Linked DNA regions of Homo sapiens. The protein of the gene in region 1 interacts with the protein of each later gene in a biochemical or structural test. Each region holds a gene or a part of one and is shown in the gene's direction. Other genes may lie near its edges. The genes, in order: NAV1 and TRIO.

Evidence for each region.
Region 2: the proteins of NAV1 (region 1) and TRIO form a complex in vitro, tested with the Homo sapiens proteins (one study listed by BioGRID).

The regions. Positions count from the first base shown.
Region 1 is NC_000001.11:201,779,619-201,787,602, forward strand, and holds part of NAV1 (neuron navigator 1), read left to right. Parts: intron 1-802; coding exon 803-941; intron 942-1,393; coding exon 1,394-1,691; intron 1,692-2,557; coding exon 2,558-3,251; intron 3,252-3,787; coding exon 3,788-4,234; intron 4,235-5,691; coding exon 5,692-5,733; intron 5,734-6,810; coding exon 6,811-6,959; intron 6,960-7,984. UniProt on the Homo sapiens protein: May be involved in neuronal migration.
Region 2 is NC_000005.10:14,286,342-14,293,341, forward strand, and holds part of TRIO (triple functional domain protein), read left to right. Parts: intron 1-529; coding exon 530-722; intron 723-4,374; coding exon 4,375-4,887; intron 4,888-6,670; coding exon 6,671-6,793; intron 6,794-7,000. UniProt on the Homo sapiens protein: Guanine nucleotide exchange factor (GEF) for RHOA and RAC1 GTPases. Involved in coordinating actin remodeling, which is necessary for cell migration and growth. Plays a key role in the regulation of neurite outgrowth and lamellipodia formation.

The DNA.
Region 1 (7,984 bases):
AAAGAACAGCCAAATGAATGTTTGTAGAGCTCAAGCTACAAAGATATGGAGGTTGTAGTAAGTTCACTTAGTGCATGAAGTAGCGTTTTTGGATACAGATGTTTACAGATAAAGATGTTTAACAGCAGTATCTCCCTAATACCACAGACCTGATATTCCAAGCAATTGGCAGAGAAATGAATCCATTCAGCACAAATTTGGCCCCTCTACATGGCCACAGCACCTTAGATTTGGTTCACTTAACAGAAGAACAGTATGTTCTGTTTAGAAGCAGGACCCGATCCCAGGATAGGGTGAACTGCATAAACGGAGGCTCAATGAGAAATGATAAAAGTCTAAGAGGTTCTAGAAAAGAGAAATCTTTTTCTGGGCCTCATTACCAGTTATAGACATTTTTAGAAAAGGAGGGGGAGAATAGATGCAGAACGCGTCTAAAAATGAACAAAGATATGTTAATTTTAAGAATGGAGGTTGTTTACAGGGAGAGTAAATTGGTTTGTATAATTAGATTGATCCAAAAATTACCTTGCCTTTATAAAATACCTTTCTGTTAAGAAGATACAACGTTTTCTCTTGCCAGATAAAGGCAGAGTCTCTTCCTTTTGTAAAAGAACATCACCAAATTACAAGGAAGTTTAAGTCACACTTTGAGTTGCTGACAAACCTAGGACAAACCCCCAGGTTTTCTCCTTTTGGCTAGCCTATATACTGGTGCAGAGCCATTCTTGCATCAATGTGAAACATTTATTTTTTGCCTGGGCTTCTGTTTTAACGATTGACCTTCATCTCTCCTGTCCTGTAGCTGGGATGAAAGCAGCTCCATCAGTAGTGGACTCAGCGATGCCTCAGACAATCTCAGTTCAGAAGAATTCAATGCCAGCTCCTCACTCAACTCCCTCCCAAGTACTCCCACTGCTTCTCGCAGGAACTCAACAATAGTGGTACGTGAGTTTGCAAACACCCAAGCTGCCATCTCAAGATGAACCACAGGGCAAATGGCATTATCTGTGTATGGGGTTGCACGTACACACCCACTCCATGGGATTGGTTCTCATAGGCCTTTGGCCAGGTCATTTTAGAGTTGCCCCCACCCCCTCCCAAAAAAAGCTAAGGCTACTCACCCAAGACATTAGATGTTGTCATATTGTGTATACTTAGTGCCTACACCAATCTAGAGTGATACATGTAAGAGCTATTCCAACTGGAGAAAAAGAAACCCCGAGATATATGTCATCTGCTGTTGGAAACCCTAGGGGTATAGGTAGAAACCCTCAGTTTGACTTAATACTCTGAGATGAGCAGCGCCAGGTACTAACTAAAATCAATCCTGTCAGCTATCCAGTCTCCCATCTGCATAGAAGTATCTCACTCTGCCTTTTTCTCTTTTCTTTAGCTACGCACAGACTCAGAGAAGCGCTCACTGGCAGAAAGTGGGCTGAGCTGGTTTAGTGAATCAGAGGAGAAAGCCCCTAAAAAACTGGAGTACGACAGTGGTAGCCTGAAGATGGAACCTGGGACTTCTAAGTGGCGGAGGGAGCGGCCTGAGAGCTGTGATGATTCATCCAAGGGTGGAGAACTGAAAAAGCCCATCAGCCTGGGCCACCCTGGTTCCCTGAAGAAGGGCAAGACCCCACCTGTGGCTGTAACTTCCCCCATCACTCACACAGCCCAGAGTGCCCTCAAAGTCGCAGGTGAGCCTGGAATAAAGGAAGGTACAAGGGCAAAGACCTAGTTCTTTGGTTGCTCCTCTTCTTAGTGGTCATTAACCCATAGGATGATAGCAAACATTTGCATAGTGCTTTAACAGACATTATCTTATCTGGTCTAAGGACAGTCCCGTGAGTTAGGAAAGATGGGTGTTATTATTTCCATTTTACAAATGTGGAGGAAATAGAAACTCAAAGAGATTAAGTGGCTGGGCCAAAATCCCAGTTAATATGAGGTACAGGAGGAAGTATATTATGTTTAGAGACTAGTTTGGCCTCCTTCCAAACACTTCCAATGCTTGCTTTCTTCTTTCTCCCAAGTTAGTCACTCAAGGCACTTATTTTCATAGGATACAGCTTGACATCTCAGGAAGATCCTAAGAAAACAATAAATAAAATGGCTACAGCAAGAGAATTATAGTGCCCCCAAAGTTGGCCCCTTGGGTAACTTTTAGCCTTAATCAACATTTTCCTGTAGTCTCTAATTACTAAGAGATATTGTCATACTCTATTCCATTTGCTTCCCCACCTTTTTTTTCCCTTCCACAACTAGTTGTTAGATGGATATTCTTGATCATCTTTGTGTTTGCCTCTGCCTTTTTAATCAAAATGGACCATTCTACTCTGGGAGCAAAACAAAAAAAATTCCTAGCCTCCCCACCCCTCCCAGCCAGAGTCTTTCAGACAAGAAACTTTATCAGCTTATCTTGTACCTGTTTACCCAAATTTAGGCCTCTAAAAGTCTACAATACATGGACAATGTTCCCTTCTCCCATGGAGGGAAAGAAAAGGGTGGGTTTTTAAGATACTGGTCAGTTTCAGCTCTTTTCTCATTTCCCGTCCTCTTGCAGGCAAACCTGAGGGCAAAGCTACAGACAAGGGTAAGCTTGCAGTGAAGAATACTGGGCTCCAACGCTCCTCCTCTGATGCTGGTCGGGACCGCCTGAGTGATGCTAAGAAGCCCCCCTCGGGCATTGCTCGCCCCTCCACTTCGGGATCCTTTGGCTACAAGAAGCCTCCTCCTGCCACAGGCACAGCCACTGTCATGCAAACTGGTGGTTCAGCCACTCTCAGCAAGATCCAGAAGTCCTCAGGCATCCCTGTCAAGCCAGTAAATGGGCGCAAGACTAGCTTAGATGTTTCCAACAGTGCAGAGCCAGGATTCCTGGCTCCTGGAGCCCGTTCTAACATCCAGTACCGCAGCCTGCCCCGGCCAGCCAAGTCAAGTTCTATGAGCGTGACCGGCGGGCGGGGTGGACCTCGCCCTGTGAGCAGCAGCATTGACCCCAGTCTCCTCAGCACCAAGCAGGGAGGCCTTACGCCTTCCAGACTGAAGGAGCCTACCAAGGTAGCCAGTGGGCGGACCACTCCAGCCCCTGTCAATCAGACAGATCGGGAAAAGGAGAAGGCCAAAGCCAAGGCAGTGGCCTTGGACTCAGACAACATCTCCTTGAAGAGTATTGGCTCCCCAGAAAGTACTCCCAAGAACCAAGCAAGCCACCCCACAGCCACCAAGCTGGCAGAGCTGCCACCAACCCCTCTCAGGTACCCAATGTGGGCAGCCGCCTCCTTGTCTGTTTGCTTTGTCATTCTTTCGCATATCTCTGCCCTCCTTGGACTAGATGAGGCATGGCCTATCCACCGTTGTCTCTAGGCCTTTGCATGGCTCTTTCCCACCTCTCCCCCATATGCCAAGGTTCTGAAAGAATCTAGTTTCTGACAGTTCTGAAAGACTGAATCCCTCTTTCAAAACTTACCTCATTTGTACTATTCTCTGATCAATGCTTACCCTGTCTTCAGCACTTGTATGGGTGTTTTTACTGTTTATTTACACATATATACCTATTTGCATAAATTCACTTGTATCTCCCATGTGCATATGCTGGCCCCTTATCTAAGCTGAATGTGCCCCAAGTTGGGTATCAGATTTCCTTGCATTGTATTTCACAACAGCATTAGGATAAGCCTCTGTGCTTAGCAAATAGGCAGAAAACAAGACTGGATAGGATTTCTTTAAGGTCCTATCTGCCTCTCACTCTGTAATTCTATTATTCTAAATATTTCGTTTGATCTTCTCTCAGGGCCACAGCGAAGAGCTTTGTCAAACCACCCTCACTAGCCAATCTTGACAAGGTCAACTCCAACAGTCTGGATCTACCATCATCCAGTGATACCACCCATGCTTCAAAGGTCCCAGATCTGCATGCTACAAGCTCAGCATCTGGGGGCCCTCTCCCTTCCTGCTTCACCCCCAGTCCGGCACCCATCCTCAATATTAACTCAGCCAGCTTCTCCCAGGGCCTGGAGCTAATGAGTGGTTTCAGTGTGCCAAAAGAGACCCGCATGTACCCCAAACTCTCAGGCCTGCACAGGAGCATGGAGTCCCTCCAGATGCCAATGAGCCTCCCCAGTGCCTTCCCCAGCAGTACTCCCGTCCCCACCCCACCTGCTCCCCCTGCTGCTCCCACAGAAGAAGAGACGGAAGAGCTGACTTGGAGTGGAAGCCCCAGAGCTGGGCAACTGGACAGGTAGGTAGAAAAGACAGCAGAACCTCGGCCTGTCTCCGTGTCTTGGGCTCATTTTGCCATTGGCAATACTATCCTATATTTTATTGCCATTTTGTGACTTTTGACATTTTTTCACATATATTAAGTAATTTAATTTGCTTCACAACAACTCCATGAGATAGGTAAGATGTGTTTTTGTTTTTAAATTATTATTCTTATATTAAAAATGAAGAAACTTGTGCACAAAGAAGTTAAATGACTCATCCAAGATCTCATAATTAGGTTAACCTATCATCCAGAGCTTTTGCTTCCTAGTCCAAAATCATTTTGTTTTGTTTTGTTTGAGATGGAGTTTTGCTCTTGTTGCCCAGGCTGGAGTGCAGTGGTGCAGTCTTGGCTCACTGCAATCTCTGCCTCCCAGGTTCAAGCAGTTCTCCTGCTTCAGCCTGCTAAGTAGCTGGGATTACAGGCACTTGCCACCATGCACGGCTAATTTTTGTATTTTTAGTAGAGACCAGGTTTCACCATGTTGGCCAGGCTGGTCTTGAACTCCTGACCTCAAGTGATCTGCCTACATCAGCTTCCCAAAGTGCTGGGATTACAGGCATGAGCCACCACACCTGGCTGCCCAGAATCTTTTCTTTTATATCACATCCTAGTTTTCCCCTCCCTTCCCCCTATATGCCAAGGTTATCAAACTACCTATATGGTAGTTTTTACCTACCATAATACGATCTATTTTTTTTTTTTTTTTGAGATGGGGTCTCACTATGTTGCCCAGACTGGACTCAAAACTCCTTGGCTTAAGCAATCCTCCTGCCTCAGCCTCCCGGGAGCTGCAACTACAGGCTCATGCCACTGTCCCTAGTGCCATAATATGATCTTTTAAATAACTAACTATGCCTTAATTTCTTTTTTGTTTGTTTGTTTTTTGTTGTTGTTGTTGTTGTTTTGAGACGGAGTCTTGCTCTGTCGCCCAGGCTGGAGTGCAGTGGCGCGATCTTGGCTCACTTGCAAGTTCCACCTCCTGGGTTCATGCCATTCTCCTGCCTCAGCCTCCCGAGTAGCTGGGGACTACAGGCGCCCACCACTGCGTCTGGCTAATTTTTTGTATTTTTAGTAGAGACGAGGTTTCACCGTGTTAGCCAGGATGGTCTCGATCTCCCGACCTCGTGATCCACCCGCCTTGGCCTGCCAAAGTGCTGGGATTACAGGCGTGAGCTACGGCGCCCGGCCTAACCATGACTTAATTTCTAATCAGAGAAATAACATTTAATATTTCAGATAAATTTCCCAAGTTGTAAGCCAAGAAGCAGGCTATAGTATCTCTTGGTTTCTAGAGCTAAAGCAGGTCATAGTTTGATGTCCTGCGTCTAGGGTCTGCATACCTCACACCAATGGTCCTAAACTCTAGTTCCTAAGATGGACCCACATGCTTCTCTCTCTCTCTCTTTTTTTTTTTTTTTTTATCTCCACAGTAATCAGCGGGATCGGAACACTCTTCCCAAGAAAGGGCTCAGGTAACCCTTTAATGTGTTTTTTCTTCCCTATAAATGGGACTGCTGGTATGTATGAAAAATCATATCTCAACCTGTCCAAGGCTCCAGTCATGAATTTAGTCACCCTTTTAGCTGAATCATTTGTATGTGGTCCCATACAAGTACCACCTAGTACCTTGCCCAAGCTTAATATTATGTGAGTCAACTTTTACAGCAAGTGTTCTTTTTTTGGTGACAGGGGAGAAACAAGTTTGCACATGGGAATCATGCACTTACCTGTACTAGCCTATGCCATCCCAATCCTGGCTGAGCTTCATCTCTGTAATTTTCTTCCCTAAAAGTATGAGGGAGAACAGTCTGCTTCTTTGGTCACTCAGCTGGGCTAGGGGCAGGACCTACCTGGTCATCCACTGTTCTGACAGCACTGAGTTGTTCAGTTGGGTGGCAACTATTGCAACTTTTTTTTTTTTTTTTTTTTTTGAGACGGAGTCTCGCTCTGTCACCCAGGCTGGAGTGCAGTGGCACAATCTCAGCTCACTGCAACCTCCACCTCCCAGATTCAAGCGATTCTCCTGCCTCAGCCTCCCGAGTAGCTGGGGTTATAGGTGTGCACCACCAAGCCTGGCTAAATTTTGTATTTTTAGTAGAGATGGGGTTTCACCATGTTGGCCAGGCTGGTCTCAAACTCCTGACCTCAAGTGATCCACCCACCTCAGCCTCCCAAAGTGCTGGGATTACAGGCATGAGCCACTGTGCCTGACCGACTCTTGCAACTTGAAAGCCCACATGTGGAATCATAAGTCTCTGTCCTGAACTTCTGAGGAGAAGTTCTAATGCCTCCTCCATCACTTCTGCCCCCAGCTCAGGAACCCTTACGGGAATACCTGCTAGTCCTTCCACACCCTCTGGATGGTCTGGGAGAGGAGGCTGAGTCGCCACCTCTTACTCCCTCCTTGGGCAGCCCTGACCACTCCCTCTTTTCCATGTCCTGCTTTCAGAATCTCCTGGCTCCAGCCTAGTTCAGACACCCTCCGCACCAACTAAACCTCTGACCGCACTTGCTAGTCCCAGACTGAGTTCTTCTGCTGCTTCCTACAGGTACCAGCTTCAGTCCCAGGAGGAGACCAAGGAGAGGCGACATTCCCATACCATTGGTGGGCTGCCTGAATCCGATGACCAGTCAGAGCTGCCTTCTCCCCCTGCACTTCCCATGTCTCTGAGTGCAAAGGGCCAACTTACCAACATAGGTTAGTGTTTTCAGTCACTCACTGTGGCATGGGGTGAAGCAGGGGTCACCCTGCAGGGTGAGGCAAGGCAGGTGGGCTTTGGGTTTCATCTCATGTTTGACTCATGCTGTATTGGGTTGTTTCATGGTGCCTCAGTTTATCCACCCAAAGTAAGATTGAAGGTAGAGTACTTTGAGATCCTAAACTGAAAAGTTGCCCCTAGGCACAAGTTGTAGGGTCCTTTTAGCATCAGAGAGCCTGAATGGTGGCATGGAAAAGCTGTAACCCAAAGCCCAGAGATCAGACCAGTGCAAGAGCAGGCACATTGAACTGCCGGAAAGGAGCCACCACACCCAGTACTACTAGGGCCAGCTAATGAGAGGGCAATACTGAAATGTCAGGCCGACGGGGAGGAAGGAGGGAAAGGTTGTTGATTGCCAAGGACGAGATCTGCCTCCAAACTCAGCCAAGTCCAGATTCCTCAACTGCTCTGGCTGAGCCCAGGCCATCCTAACGCTGAAGGCAGGGCTGACTCAGATGTGTCCTGGCCACCCCCTTCCTAAAGCCTAGGGAGAAAGGAGAGCTAGGAAATAAGGAAGTGACTTAGAGACAGGGAGGAGAGGAAGCATCAGGTGGAGGGTCTGGCCTAGCACAGAAGCACACCAGCTCCGGTTCTGTGAAGCAGTACGCCATGATTGGCCTACTAGGAATCCATTCAGGAATAGTGCCTGGGATAGGCCTGTTATCTGCTTGCTGCATCTCTTTAAATCCATCTCTTCTTTCAGCTGAGTAAAAGAAATCAGTTAATAAAAGACAAGGACCTGTAACACACCCATGCAGTGACTGTGGGGAATTTGAGGAAAGACTAGGAATTGGGATCACTTGGCCTAGGGAAAAGAACCATTGTTCAGACAGGATCATCTGCCCTCTGAAGGGCTACTAAATGGAGGATGGGGCCAGCTTGTTCTCTATCTCCATTGAAGACCAAATAAGAAGAATTGCATTTATGCTGCAGAATGAGGGGCTGGGCTAAGCAATAATTACCT
Region 2 (7,000 bases), on another chromosome or scaffold:
AACATAAGAAAGTTCTCATCATTGCCAGCCATGCTAGTGGGGGGTCATTTTCAGCACCTGGGGTGCTGGGAGTCCTGGGGTAACTGCCGTCCACAGGTCTCAGACTGTCCCCAGTCTGGGTTTTGTTGCAGGCTGTCAGGGTTTTGTACTCACCCGATGCTCCCTGGAGACCTTTGCTCGCAGGAGTGACTGGAGGAGTTCATGTAATCAATTAATGCACCAAAGTCAGGAGAAATGGGCATGGTGACCGTTGTTTTCCTGAAAAGAAGACGGGATGCAAAACCATTAATACAAAATTGAAATCTTAACAGGTTTTGCAGGTTGAACATGAAGCGTGTATAGCCTGGGTCTCTTCCTTTATGGTACAAGGGAGGGACGAGAAGGAGCTGAGCACAGTGTGCTCCTTCCCCTGCCTCCGCACGTGTCCAGCAGGGGAGGGAAGCTGGGTCTGTGGCACCCAGTGGGACTCTGACCAGGCAGAGTGGCAAGAGATGTAACCCGTCTTCAGCCATGTTTTCTTTCTCTGCAGCGAGGAGGTCTGCAAGCGTGGCTTCACGGTGATCGTGGACATGCGTGGGTCCAAGTGGGACTCCATCAAGCCCCTTCTGAAGATCCTGCAGGAGTCCTTCCCCTGCTGCATCCATGTGGCCCTGATCATCAAGCCAGACAACTTCTGGCAGAAACAGAGGACTAATTTTGGCAGTTCTAAATTTGAATTTGAGGTAACTTCCCCCGTGTGGCTAGACCCACTAAACAAGTTGGTGTGGTTTACTAAAAGCTATTGAGGCTAATGAGAGATTTTTTTTTTAAACCACATATTAAACAGGAGCTGCATATCTTACGAACATGTGATACGTAAAATTAGTTACTGCATGAAATAACAGAGCTGCGTTCATCATCCGAGTGGATTGTTTTACCCACATGGGCTTAGGTTTCAGTTCCCTTGGGTTGGGTGATGGGCTGTTGAGTTGTGAGGCCTTGGCAGAGAAGCTTGCTGGCTGCCTTATATTTCACTTGACAAACAGCTTTACCAGGCAGCACTGTGGCTTTGCACAGTTACAGATTCATTCTCCTTGCCTCAGCCCTGGAGATGAGGGAATGTTAGGGAGAAATGCCCAACTTCAGAGTCCCTAAGTTTCATCCTGTCATGGATAATGGAAAGAATGCATGTATTAGGCCTCTGATTTCTGAAAATGGAGATAGTGTGTTAAAAACTGTGCAGAGTCCTGAATTCAGTTAGGCATGGAAGATTGCCGTCTTTCAGTGGTAAAAACAAGACAAAACCCTCAGCCCACTAATTATTTTGCTTCCCACTGTAACCTCCTCTCCTTAAGCTACCAAGGTTCTGACAAGGCCTTCGGTGCAGTTAGTTTAATGAGATGATTATGGGAGGAAAGTCTTCCTGCCAGCATGAAACTTGATTCTTGCTCCATTTGGAATAAGATTTTAATATTTTCTAATAAGAAATACTTTTTGGTTGAATAGATTGCTTCCTCTGGCAAATCTGCTCAAACGTTAGGTTTCAGTGGATGTATTCATGTATTTTAAGGTAAACAGCAATAATATTAAACATCAGACAGTGTTAATCCTTAATCTTCAGGTTATAATGCTATACTTTTCAAAGTGTTTGCACAGGTGTATTACTTGGATTTTTAAATTCTTTCCATAGTACTCATTTTTCTATCCAAAATATGAACTTAGTTTTAAATTTGAAACTACTCAGGTTTACTACACTCCATCAGAAAGATGAACCCAGTAAGCCTTTATCTTCATAGAGAATAGGAAGTAATTTTGGAGGACAGTTTATTGGGTGTTAATTATTTTCTTGATGCAGAATTGAAAGTGCATTGTATTTAATTATAAGTGTTTTAAGTAAAAATAATGGTCTGGCAATACAATTCATACAGGTTTTTCCAGTCCAGTTTTGATCTCTCCCTCAGGGCTCTTAAAGGCACCAGTTTTTCTATGGAACTTGTTACATTGTTACCAGCCTCTCTCTCCCCACCCAGTGATTGCCTCTGTGGAGATTATTAAAAGTCCAGCAGGACCGGGTGTGGTGGCTCACGCCTGTAATCCTAGCACTTTGGGAGGCCGAGGCGGGCGGACCACGAGGTCAGGAGATTGAGACCATCCTGGCTAACACGGTGAAACCCCATCTCTACTAAAATACAAAAAATTAGCCGGGCGTGGTGGCAGGCACCTGTAGTCCCAGCTACTTGGGAGGCTGAGGCAGGAGAATGGCGTGAACCTGGGAGGCAGAGCTTGCAGTGAGCCGAGATTGTGCCGCTGCACTCCAGCCTGGGCAACAGAGCGAGATTCCGCCTCAAAAAAAAAAAAAGTCCAGCAAACGAGAGAGGAATGGGCCTATGGTAGGATTGTAGGCATAAGTGCTGGATCAGGAGTCATCCCTCTTCTACCTCTGCTGCCTTCTGATGTTTCTTTTGCCAACCAGCACGCCGGACCAGCCCTTCTTGTTTTCTCTTTTGGTTCTAGGTCACAACTCTTTCTCCTTCACCTTTGTCTTTGCATTTAATCTTCCCCCTCCATGTTTTCCTTGAGGCATATTAATATTAATCTGCTTCACATCATGATAAGGTGAGGTTAAGATTTCTTGCCGAGGCCAGGCACAGTGGCTCATGCCTGTAATCCCAGCACTTTGAGATTCTAAGGGAGGAGGACTGCTTGAGGCTGGGAGTTCGAGCCCAGCCTGAGAAACTTAGCAAGAGCCTGTCTCTATATTTTGTTTTAAAAATTAGCCAGGTGTGGCCGGGCGCGGTGGCTCATGCCTGTAATCCCAGCACTTTGGAAGGCCGAGGCGGGCGGATCACAAGGTCAGGAGTTCGAGACAACCTGGCCAACATGGTGAAACTCCATCTCTACTAAAAATACAAAAATTAGCTGAGCGTGGTGTAAGTCACCTGTAATCCCAGCTACTCGGGAGGCTGAGGCAGGAGAATCACTTGAAATCGGAAGGTGTAGGTTGCAGTGAGCTGAGGTTGCACCACTGCACTGCAGCATGGGCAACAAGAGCAAAACCCTGTCTCAAAAAACAAACAAACAAAAATCACCAGGTGTGGTGGCACACGTGTAATTCCAGCTACTCAAGAGGCTTAAGATGGGAGGATGGCTTGAGCCCAGGAATTTAAGCTTACAGCATGTAATCATCGCCACACTCCAGTCTGGAAGACAGAGCATGACCCTTTTTTTCCTTTTTTAAAAAAAAAGGTCGTGTGCGATGTCTCATGCCTGTAATCCCAGCACTTTGGGAGGCTGAAGTGGGTGGATCATTTGAGATCAGGAATTTGAAACCAGCGTGACCAACATGGTGAAACCCCGTCTCTACTAAAAATACAAAAGAATTAGCCTGGTGTGGTGGTGGGCACCTGTAGTCCCAGCTACTCGGGAGGCTGAGGCAGGAGATCACTTGAACCTGGGAGGCAGAGGTTGCAGTAAGCTGAGACTGCGCCACTGCACTCCAGCCTGGGTGACAGAGCAAGACTCCATCTCAAAAAAAAATAATAATAATAAATATAAAGATTTCTTGCTTAGACTGTAATTGACTAAAACTTTGTCACTGTTAAATTGCAATGTAGTACAGATTATATACAACTCTAGGACTGTTCAGAATCACAGCAGATTATTGCAATGAATAAAACATTGCCTCTATCCTTAGCTCTGTCAAATGAGCCTCTGCCAGCTTTCTTGCCAACTCTTGAATATTTTCTAAATTTTTATAAATTCATTCATATCCCATCATCTGTTATTTGATGGGCAGTGGGGTTAGGCTTAGGCAAGATGAATGATAGGGTGGTCTGGTTGGAGCAGCATTCATCGTTTAATAGGCAGCCCACACGTAATTGAATTTAGAGTGATGTTACACTTAAAAGGGTTTTGATGCCCTTGAGCAAGACGTTTGTGTAATAGCAAGTAGTAGAAAACCTCCACAGAGTTTCTGGCATGGATGAAAAAGAATGGGGAGAAGAATGCATTGATGTAAGTGAAATTTCTGAATTGTTTGCTCTGAACTTGCAATTTAACCTGTTTCCTAGTTTAATGTGTCTGTTATAGTGGGTTAATCTCCATCTTCTTGGAAAGAAATCTCATTTCTTTAGCTCTCATGAAATACACGATTCTACAGTTTTGGGTATTCCAGCTGACATATATGTGTTGCTATAATGGATTTGTCTTTCATTGTACTGATAATGCTTCTTTCATCTACATTTATTTTTATGGGGCCAGAACCAGGTATGTTATGTTTTCTATAAATAGATTACTTTAACTTTGAAAACCTGTGACTGAGCATTGCAAATTGCATTATGTTAAAACTATATAAAATTGGTTCATCTTCTCATACGTGATTTTTTTTCCCTTAAGACAAATATGGTCTCTTTAGAAGGCCTTACCAAAGTAGTTGATCCTTCTCAGCTAACTCCTGAGTTTGATGGCTGCCTGGAATACAACCACGAAGAATGGATTGAAATCAGAGTTGCTTTTGAAGACTACATTAGCAATGCCACCCACATGCTGTCTCGGCTGGAGGAACTTCAGGACATCCTAGCTAAGAAGGAGCTGCCTCAGGATTTAGAGGGGGCTCGGAATATGATCGAGGAACATTCTCAGCTGAAGAAGAAGGTGATTAAGGCCCCCATCGAGGACCTGGATTTGGAGGGACAGAAGCTGCTTCAGAGGATACAGAGCAGTGAAAGCTTTCCCAAAAAGAACTCAGGCTCAGGCAATGCGGACCTGCAGAACCTCTTGCCCAAGGTGTCCACCATGCTGGACCGGCTGCACTCGACACGGCAGCATCTGCACCAGATGTGGCATGTGAGGAAGCTGAAGCTGGACCAGTGCTTCCAGCTGAGGCTGTTTGAACAGGATGCTGAGAAGGTAAAGACGGGGGAGGCTAATGCCTCAGTGGACATGGGGGAAGCCAGCGCTGGTGGGTTCGGGTGGAAGGAAAGAGAAAAGGTGGAGAATGGTAAGGCTATACTCACCGTGTGTGCTCTAAACCAGCGAGAGTCATTTCAGAAATGGCACTGAAATCTGTTTTCCGGTTTTACTCGTTGTGCAATACAGTGCTGTTTTAGAAATTTTGAGTTCAAATTACTTATTCTTTGGTCTAGGATGCCTGTAAGATAGGAATGATATTTTCACTTAAAAGAGTGAACATTTCGGCCGTGCTCACGCCTGTAATCCCAGCCCTTTGGGAGGCCGAGGTGGGCTGATCACCTGAGGTCAGGAGATTGAGACCAGTCTGGCCAACATAGTGAAACCCCGTCTCTACTAAAAATACGAAAATTAGCCGGGTGTGGTGGCACGCGCCTGTAATCCCAGCTACTCAGGAGGCTGAGGCAGGAGAATCGCTTGAACCCATGAGGCAGAGGTTGCAGTGAGCCAAGATCGTGCCATTGCATTTCGGCCTGGGCGACAGAGTGAGACTCCGTCTTAAAAAAAAAAAAAAAAAAAAAAAAAAAAGTGAAAATTTCACAGGGTTATGTTATTGACAAAACACCATTCCAATCTATTGAGTATGTTTTTTAAAATCAAGATGAGTAATGTGTTAAAAGTAACAGTTTCTGGGTAATATAGTTGGTAATCACCTCTAGTCTCATGTTTTATTCTTATGCACCAGGCAGACCAACTGGTCAAAGTGAATCCTTATCAATTACTGGCTAATTGAATCTTAGCAATGTGGAAACTGGGCACTTACCCATAGGTATGTGTTGCAAGCCATGAACATGGGTGAATTAATCATTGAGTTTTATTGGAGCTCATTGAATTTTATATTACATGGACAGGAGAATATTTTGTAAAGTAAAAAACCACATTAGAATTCTTGGATGTAAAAGGACTTTTCAAAAGGTGATAATCCAGTGTTTTTATTACTAAAGCTTTTAATGTATCTGTCAGTGTTCTTTTGTTTTAAGTAGCACCTTGTCTAAGAGACTGGAATACCTTCTTTTCAATTACTGGAAGACCAGGTTACTGTCACTGGGATTCTGGTTCAAGTCATGGTAGCAATGCTAATTGATGATAGTCATCTATATTTTCTTAAATGTTTTCATTGCAAATGTCTTAATTGACATCCTTGTCCAAGTAACATCTATATTGAACCTTAAGGGAGATGTCATAGTTAGTTTTTCCCACCTTTTTTATAGTAAATTTTATGTTTTTGCAATCTGCACAGGTGTCTGTGTACTTCTTGATCAAACAGTGGAATCTTTTAGTCATTGATATTTCTGTCAGTAACCTGTGGGCACAGCAGAACCCATCCAGAGACCCATAAGTTCCTAATTTCACCCTAACGGGTCTTTAATTGAACCTCACTGTGGCAAATTAAGTAGTTCAGCGTGGCAGGGAGACTGGGCTGAGAGTCAGAGGATCAGAGTTTTTAATCAGCCTGGGGGATTAGAGTAACTCTCTTTACTTATCTGCTTCTTAATTCCTTCTCTGTAAGAGGAACACATCAGATAAGATTTTCTGGTAGGTCCTGCAAGTTCAGAACTGCTGACTTGTTCTTCGAAGTAAAGACTCTTCTGAGAGAATCAGACAGCGCTTGAAGTTGTCCAGGGAAGGAAGTTGCCCTTTCTTGGTACTGCCCCATCTGTGGGCTTGTGTCAGTAATTTCTCTTTCTGGAGTGATTGCGGGTTGTCTTTTTCCTTCCGGTAGATGTTTGACTGGATCACACACAACAAAGGCCTGTTTCTAAACAGCTACACAGAGATTGGGACCAGCCACCCTCATGCCATGGAGCTTCAGACGCAGCACAATCACTTTGCCATGAACTGTATGGTAAGACACTCGGAACAGCTGGACCCTGGCATGTGACAGTGTTTTAGCAAATGGGAGGCATTTGGCAAATTGTATGCTAGGGCTTTCAAGGGGCCTTCGGAGTGGCTGTTGATTGTAGCAGCTGACCTTCACATGGAGGGTGTTCCCTAGGGTTCCATTGTCTCACTATCCCACATTTTAAGTTTTAAACAAAAATGAAAACAAGCA